2 separate regions of the Homo sapiens genome follow, and region 2 is linked to region 1. Evidence: fine-mapped expression QTL. Tissue or cell type: whole blood. Region 1 holds a variant in brackets; the other region holds the start of a gene. All regions are shown on one strand. Distances are from middle to middle. Region 1 overlaps TLR5 (toll like receptor 5). Region 2 holds the start of TLR5 (toll like receptor 5).

What was found.
Region 2: it holds the start of TLR5, and the variant in region 1 is fine-mapped to the expression of TLR5 in whole blood (TOPMed, PIP above 0.99).

The regions. Positions count from the first base shown.
Region 1 is chr1:223,105,957-223,110,344 of GRCh38, reverse strand. TLR5 (toll like receptor 5) reads left to right here. Exons shown (of 6, transcript NM_003268.6): 6 at 1-941. Among named protein-coding and RNA genes, the nearest start is that of TLR5, 35 kb to the left of the region's middle. The variant C/T (reference allele first, on the strand shown) is at 2,697.
Region 2 is chr1:223,140,528-223,144,915 of GRCh38, reverse strand. It overlaps TLR5 (toll like receptor 5), which reads left to right and starts at 1,668. Exons shown (of 6, transcript NM_003268.6): 1 at 1,668-1,720; 2 at 3,153-3,268. It overlaps LOC124904522 (a long non-coding RNA gene), which reads right to left and starts at 1,561. Exons shown (of 2, transcript XR_007066895.1): 1 at 1,318-1,561. RefSeq lists a silencer at 1,510-1,879.

The DNA of each region.
Region 1 (4,388 bases):
TACTATGAAAACAACATAAATCTCTCAATTTTCGTATCAACACCATGTTCTGTCTCACTAACCTCCAAATGGAAAATAATAGATCTAGAAAATTGCAACTGCCCTTAGAGGTTTCCAGTCTCCATTGATTTTCTTTCAGATCCAATAATACCGTTCTGTCCTGCTGTGTTGATTATGGAATGTATCCTAATCATGGGAAGGGCACCTTGGGAGAAGTTGCAGATGGCTGACGTGCTTTCTCTAGCATTCAGCTAAAAAATGGGATGGTCCATGATTCTGCGTTCTCTGTGTTCTGCAAAACAACATTAAGTAGAAAACAAACAGAAGCAGAGGCACATTTCCTTCTTTTGCCACAGAAACAATGCCACTGTTGAGTGCAAGTCACACTTTGTCTCATAGATAAGAGGTGGCCCCAAAGAAGCTGGGATGAATGAGTCACTACCTGTCTTGTGACTGTACTGCACTTCATGTTCTTACCTTCGGCTTCTCCAGGTCTCGCCCTAGTGAGCCAAGAACTTTCTCTCACATGCTGCCTTTATTTAAGCCTGGCCTTCAAGACCTTCCATGATTTATCACCAACCTACCTTTTCAGCTTTGTTTCCTAGCACACCTCATTGATCAGCTGCTCAGGCTGTTGCATGAAGAACATGGACTTTGCACACAGATCCTGGGTTGAGTTCTGAGTCAGCTGTGTATTAGCCATGTAACCTTGGCCTTGGTATGCCCTTGCTGGACCTACATTTTCTCACGTAACAGCATCTATGTCATAGAATTCCTGTGAAAATTAAATTGGCCAAGGATGTCAGGGCTTCTCAGATCTTTTCCTTCGTTGCCCTAATGACCACAAGAGAACACATACACTGAAGGCCTCCTGGGGGGCAGTTGCAATTTCACTGAAGTTGTATTTTTTTATCTTAAATGAAATCTATGTGTATTTTCCATTCTGTTCTTTTTTTCATGTTTATTAATATAGAAATGTGTTTTTGCAAAAGGATTAAGAATACTTAAAACAAGGAAACTGTGCCAAAATTACCCCATAGCTTCACACACTGCCTCCTCCAAGTCCAGCGTAACTCCAGGTCAGCTCCTGCAGTTTGAGGGGTACACATGGGTCTGGGACTCAGCTCTCCAAACTGTCACCTTCTTCCCCTCACTGGGCCCCTCAATCCTGACTCCTCCAACACACACACGCGCGCACACACACACACACACACACATACACGCTATTCTCATCCCAACTTCTTTTGGCCACTTCTAATCAATGAGACCGAGCTTTCCCTGCACCCAGCGATGGCATTATTTTCACGCACACCATGCAGTCCCCACTGTACCTCTTTCCTCTGGATTCTTCTCCCATCTCTGCACATCCATCCTACGTTTTCTTCGTTTTCTTCAAAATCCAGCCCATGAAGCTCCCTGGGATCCCTAACCCAAAGTCCTCTCTCCCTTTTGTGAAAACTCTTGACACTTTATCTGGTCTTTTAAAAGTAGCACTTACTACTACTTCCTCTATCCTTTTTTCTGAGCCTGCCCGGCTGCCCGCCTCTCTGGAAGATAAGTTCCCTGAGGAAAGACCTTGTCTTCTGTGTCCTGCCCTCACTGGCTGTAGCAGATCACTTATGGTTTGGGGACCATTCAAGGGTTTCCCACTTACACATCTGCCCATGCTTCTTCCTCCCCATGGAATTTCTTCTCCCCATCCTACCACTCGTCTGCCTGATGAATTTCCTTGTTTAGCAAGACTGCCCATCCCTCATGACCCCAGTGACAGATTTTCTGTCACTGATACATGACATTGTGTTGCGCCAGTGTGTTTATGTATGTGTATGGACGGCTTAGTTTGTGAGACACTGCAGTCAGGATCTTGTCTTGTTCATCTGTGTATCGCAGGCCCAGTTTGTGCCTGGCCCACAGTATGTGCTTAGTAAATGTCTTGTGGATGAGTGAAGTATACTGGGAAGCCCAGCCTCCCTCATGGCAACACCTGCTGTTATTAGACTTTCCACTGGAGGGGCAGGGAGGATGAGGGCCTGAGAGAGCAAGATATCCATGGAGGTGCTGAGTGGTAAGCTGAAAAGGGCAGGAGACCACAGGCTGTCAGACACCCCTGAACACTATTTCAAATGGCCAGGCATGGCACAGGCCTCCTGGGTAGTGGGACAGTGGCAGCCTGGATTAGCAGCTAGGAACGGGGCTAGAATGGAGAGCTGAGGGGGTGGGGAGGAAAACAGAACCCACATGAATTTGCAGTGAATAAGGTCTCCTGGAACCCTGTGCTAAGAAATACAGTAAAACAGGGCCAGGCACTGGTGGCTCATGCCTGTAATCCCAGCACTTTGGGAGGCTAAGGTGGGCCAATCACTTGAGGTCAGGAGTTTGAGACCAGCCTGCCCAACATGGTGAAACCCCGTTTCTACTAAAAATACAAAAATTAGCTGGGTGTGGTGGTGCACACCTGTAATCCCAGCTACTAGGGAGGCTGAGGCAGGAGAATTCCTCGAACCCAAGAGGCGGAGATTGCAGTGAGCCAAGATGGCACTACTGCACTCCTGGGTGACAGAGCGAGATCCTAACTCAAAAAAAAAAAAAAAGAAGGAAGGAGACAAAACAAAAGTATACTGTGTCAGTAACAGGTATAACCGCAAATCAGGAAGACTGTGGAAAGACCACTCTGCTCGGTTTCATGCCCTCCTGTC[C/T]CACCTGCTGCTCAGCCATGGTTTTCCCCCAGCTCTAGGGGGTGGGAGGGGCACCCAGGACACTGAAGAAATCTCCTGGTCAGAACACCTTGTATGAACAGGACTCCTAGGGAAAGGGGTTTCCTAGTCCGGCTAGGGGTTGGAGGTAGTGCTACACCAGGGACCTCCCTTGGTTTGGGTGACCATCGCTATGACTCTGTTTTCCAAACCAAACCTGGGACATGTAAAATGACAAGTGCAGGTGTCTTTACAGGAAGAACAAGCTGAAACACAGATAACTCTCAACATAGGAAAGGAGTCTATCCCACAGCCTTTTCTAATCTTCTTATTTAAAAACACGAATTACAGGTAATTTTCCTAATGAAACACATTTAAAAGGCATCTTTTGTGGTCTCTGTATAGAGTGTATGGGGGACCTGTTCATGTCTACATCCTAGCCACTGTTAGTTTCAACATACCACTCTATTTCAAAACTTCCCTTTTCTGGCAAAGATCCAAAACTTACTAAAATTCTTTTGTCTTCTTTCCCATGGTCAGGCCCAGCAGTTGGAATTCTTTTTGAGGCCATTTTCCCAAGTCTTTATCACGTCACAAGACTTGCTGTGTACATGGCAAAAGGAAGGCCCAACGGAGCCACATTGGGAAGTGGGCCCTGGGGAGTCTGCTGAGACACTGGTTGCTAAGTGACTGCCCTGTCTTCCATGGCGCAGTGATTCAAAGCCAGGCCTCAGGAAATAGATAAATTCCACATAGCACAGACCTCTGGGGTCACTCCAAAATGGTGAGAAACTACCACAGTTCAATCTCAGAATGGCTAGAGCTTTCTGTAGTTGAAACTGCAACTATTCTGGAAAGATCTAGAATATTGACTAGAGCTGCTGAAAACTTCAAAGAGAATCCCACTCATGCCAAATACAACTGACTCTGAAAATCCCTTGCCAACCACGTGCACTTGCAGTGAAGAATGTTTTAGAGAGTCTTGATATTATGTAAAGCAAATGCGGTTTGAAGTTTTAAATCATGAAAGAACCACGTTAAGAGGACAAGAGACTGTGGAGTAAAAGTTTAAGATAGTTAAATGCTCATGTACCACAATGTAAAATTGATTACAAAAAAGTCTACAATATTAAATCAAGAAATAGTGTTCCAAATATATATATTTAGAAGTATGAAAATGCCAGAAGAAAGAACCATACAAATTAATGATGATTGCCTGAGGAAGTTCTGCCCAGTTCTTCCATTGGGAGCATCTAGAAAAGCTGGAGAAACTATTTTTTTAGAATCTATTTAAAGACACGGGAAAGTTGCAAGGTAGTAAATAGGGCCAAGAGGCAAGAGAAGAAGGAAATCGAGAAAGCTGACTACAATGCAATTAAGACCATCTATTACCAAAAAAAGACTATCAGTGAATGAAAAGGGAAACTTTAGCATGGAGGGAGATATTTGTAATACACGTATCCAAAAAGGACTCACAGGCAAAATCTAAAAGAACTTCTACAAATCAATAAGAAAAAGACTACAGAAAAGAAAAATGGACATGACACTTAAGAATTTCACAAAAGGCTATCCAATGTCCAATAAGGAAACGAAAAGATACTCAACCTCCTTTAGTGATCAGAGACACGCAAATTGATACAACATTGCAATCCCACTACCCACCCACCAGAATGGCTAAAATTAAGATGACTGACA
Region 2 (4,388 bases), 35 kb before region 1:
TCCTGCTCAGCAAAAGCTTTGATCACCAGCCCCCTTCCCCTGAATATACTGGAGAAAAATAACAGAAGTGCATTTCAAGGTCCACATGTGAGAAGACCCTAAGCTGTCCTGGCTGTTCAGGTAGAAGTTGTCATCTTCCTCAATGATCTCGGCTGTTGGAAGACATGGCCAGGCAGACAGAATCTAAAAGTTCTTCCAGGTGTGACATGAGTCCCTGGAGCTCAGTGACAGAAACCAGTGTCCAAAACCAGATGCCACCCTGGGGAGGGGGCTTTGGGAGTTCCTGGGAGGCCATAACACCGTCTGGAAGGCTCCTCTCTCCCACATATTCACAAAGTTGCATGATAAGCCAGGCCCCTGCTGGTCTTGCAGCATCCACCTATGATGCAGAGTAAACAGTGCCACACGTCAAGCTGTCCCCAACCTTGCCCTCGGTTCCACTACCAAAAGAGGGAACACTGGGCTTGCCCCAGCAAGGTGTTATTTATGTCAGGCTAGGGCCACTGTGGCTCCCAGCTCTTACTGCTTTCTAGGTGCCCTTACAGACTTCCCCACTGCCCCCTGCATATGCCAGAGTGTGAACATCCCCTCCCTCTCCACAGCCCCCACAGTGGGGTTCGGGTGGGCAGGGAGGTGGTTTCATCCCTCTACATACAGCCCTTGGAGACCTACCTAGGCAATTTGTCACTCAGGCTTCAAGCTGCCAGCCGAGGAGGGGAGCTGAGAAGACTCTATAATGAGATCTTTGCACTGTAATTAAGTGCCAGGCTTTGTTTTACACCTATCTTTCCCGCCTTGCCCGATCCCACCGCCAAGCTCCTCCAGGCAGTGAGTGGGGAGTGTCAGCTGCTCTGTGATTACACCCCAAGTGGCAGGTGGCAGGGAGCTCCTCCGCCTGCAGTCTGCGCCCCACCCCCAGGCTTCCCCCACCACCAGTCTTAACTCAAGACAGTGCTATTTCTGTCCTTGAACTGGGTTTCACCCCAGAAAGCCACTCCACCGCTTTCTCATAAGGCTACCTCCTTTTAACCCTGTGGTTGCACGGCCTCTGGGGTGTCCATTTCTTTCTTTTGACACGTCCCTTTTCCTGAAAGTTTCAGCAAACCCCATAGGCAGAGGGAGTTAGAAAAAGGAAAAGAGAAGTTAGGGCAGGAGGAGCACTGTTCTTATAGGACAGGAAGGGTCTGTCTTCTCTCTTGGGTCCTCCACACAAAATCGGAGCTTCCAAACACCCCAGCTCCCAAACATATGCAGCAGATTCTGCTGACAGGAATGTGTCACTGTGATCTTCACATTTTAGCCTGAAGTTTAGCCTACCTGAAGAAGCACCGGAGTGGGAGTGGGAGAACATGGGATGGTGCTTCTCTTTGGCCTGGCTGTGCTTTTGGACACTTCAGGTCTTCGGCCTGGGTTTCCTCCTCCGTACGATGAGGAGAGGATGGGAGGGGGCAATGCTGGCATGTGTGATCTCGATAGACACTGTGGAAGTCTGCAGAGACCGGAGCATAACCTCTGCCTCCTCTCCCCGGGCCTAGCCTCTCACAGCCCTCAGAGAAAACCCTGAGCTGCGGCGTGGCCGAGACGGGGGCGTGGCCTGGCAGGTGGGCGGGCCCTTCCGTGGGCGGGGCCGCGAGGTTTTCAGGAGCCCGAGCGAGGGCGCCGCTTTTGCGTCCGGGAGGAGCCAACCGTGGCGCAGGCGGCGCGGGGAGGCGTCCCAGAGGTGAGCGCCCTGCAGCGGCAGGGGATGGGCCGGGGGCCCTAAGTCGTAGGCAGCGCGGGGCGGGGACGCGGCTGCCTGCGGAGGTCGGACTCCTCTCCGCCCTCCTCCCGGGCTGTCCGGGTCTATTTTCCAGTCTATGTCCAACTCGCGCCGCCTCACTAGGCGGCGCTCTCTGCCCCGCGGCACCCGCGAGACGTGGGGTCCCTCGGCCCAGGGACGGGGTGAGCGTGTCATGTGGGTGCCCTGTGCCCGGCAGGTTGGAGACGAAGAGACCTCGGCACAGACGAAGTCACTCACATCCTCGCTTTGAAACAGAGCGGGTCCTTCTTGTGCTGTCTCGCTGTCACTCTCGCCCCCACCCTGTGGAAGAGGCAGGTGGCTTGTCCCCAGTCACTTTCTTCCTTGGAAAAGGGAGACAGAGGGCCATCTCCAGCAGGGCCATGGAAATCCCAGAAAGTCACTGAGCTGCTCAACAAAAGGCCCTAAACACCCCACCCCACAGCACCAGGCAGTGCACACTGGCCAAGACTCCGTGGTAAATATTGCTGGCCTTTATGTTGAGAGGGGGAAAAAAAAGCCTGCCTGTGAAGATCATTGCCCAGTGGCCATGCTCCTGTGAAAACACAATTGGAAAGCCATTTCCTAAGGGGCGAGGGTGGGTCTGGGACCATGCTGTGGCTTGGGTGATTGGTGGTTGCAGGAGTGAGGGTGCTGCCCTGGGAAGGCGCTGAGGCCCTGTTGGGTGGGAATCGACGGCTGCGGCTTTCTCCCGGAGGAGGGAGAGCGGTGTTGTTACCTAGTGTTGGGAACACATCCGTCCAGCACCGTGAACTGCAAACAAGCAGAGTAACCCTAGTGTCCTTCAGATACTGTTGCTGAGCAGTCACCTAGTCAATGAGATGATCTGTTTGGACGGCAAGTGCATCTGTAATGCCGCCCTCTTGCTCAGTGCCTGGAAGAGGCATTGGTGACTCCCCGCTAATGCTAGGGGTAGCTACCGTGCAGGAGCAGTCAGGCTCTTGCAGGGCCAATGTGGTTTCATCAATTTTCTCCTGCATTTACCCAGCCCCTCCGAATTCTGAGAAGTGCGTCCAAGATCTCTTGGACTCCTTGACTCAGTTCACCCTTGTTCTTGTGGGCAGAAAACAATTCCCAGTGTGCCATGCACAGCCAGTCAGAAGGGAAGCCCTGGAGCAGGGCCCTGGGAGAAGTTCTGTGGGGCTGGATGCTAATTATTCAGTTACTGGATTGTGGGGAAATTCCAGGGGAGGTCCCAGAGGAGAGACCGTGCTAAAGCTAATTACTAAGCAGTACAAAAATAATCTCTCTCTCTCTCTTTCTCTCTCTCTCTCTCTCTCTCTCTCTCTCTCTCTATATATATATATATATATATATATATATATATATATATGTAATTTTTTTTTTGAGACAGTCTCACTCTGCCGCCCAGGCTGGACTGCAGTGACACAATCTCGGCTGACTGCAACCACTGCCTCCAGGGTTCAAGCGATTCTCTTGCCTCAGCCTCCCAAGTAGCTGGGATTACAGGTACCCACCACTACGCCTGTCTAATTTTTGTATTTTTAGTAGAAATGGGGTTTCACCATGTTGGTCGGGCTGATCTCAAACTCCTGACCTCAGGTGATCCGCCTGTCTTGGCCTCCCACAGTGCTGGCATTACAGGTGTGAGCCACTGTGCTGGGCCAAAAATAATCTAAATTTCAACAATCAGCATGACCATGCCTGTGCGTATGACCCTAATTATCAGTCTGACTGATTCTTCCTTCCAAAATGATGGCAGAGGATCACCTCTTTGGATATTTACAGCTCTGAGCAAAGCAAAAAGCATGTAGGTGCCATTGTCTGAATGCAAAACCAGCCATGCCAGGTTTTCGGTGTTGTTTCTGAGGAGGGAGCGCCTCTCTGGAGGACGGTGTTTCCAGAACAGTGCCTCCGTTGTTCATTCCCGTGCATCAGGAAGTTTGGCTCTGCTGAGTGTTGAAAGCAAAACTCTCCTGTTTATTTGTCTCTGTATACTAACAGACTTAAACAGCAGACAGCACTGGAATGTCCAGTTACTGCATCCAGATGTGTTTGTTTCACTCTTAACATTGTGGAAAAGAATGCAGAAGGCAGATCCAAAGCTTCAATCAGATTTCTGAAGCTTAAGTGATTCCCAGCCTTGGTCCCTTAATGTGAGAGCAACAGCGTATAGTGTCTTCCGCTCTCTGGGACAAACCCAAGTTTGAGGCATAGTCCCTGCTGTCCAAAAGCTCCTAGGTCTAAGTAGGAAGACAAAACCAGCACCTGTGAAACAATTAGAGCGCAATTAAGTGCGAAAGTATGTGGCAGCATCTGCTAGCTCAAAGAAGACAGCTAGTGCAGACTGACTGGGAAAGGAAGAGAGAGCTTCACAGAGCCAGCTGGTGTTCAGCTTGACTTAAGAATGACCATCAAGGGCTTGGCCAGGCCTAGGAAAGGAAGCATGAGGATATATGAAGCTCAGAATAATGAAAGGCACTTGCTGCCCAGAGCCAATTCAAATTCCTGCCTTCCGGGAATTCTGGCTGTGGGTCCTGCCACTCTCTTCCTCACCCAGCCATGATGCCCTTCTTATAGCATTCTAACCATGCCTTTTTTTTTTTTTTTGAGACAGAGTCTCACTCTG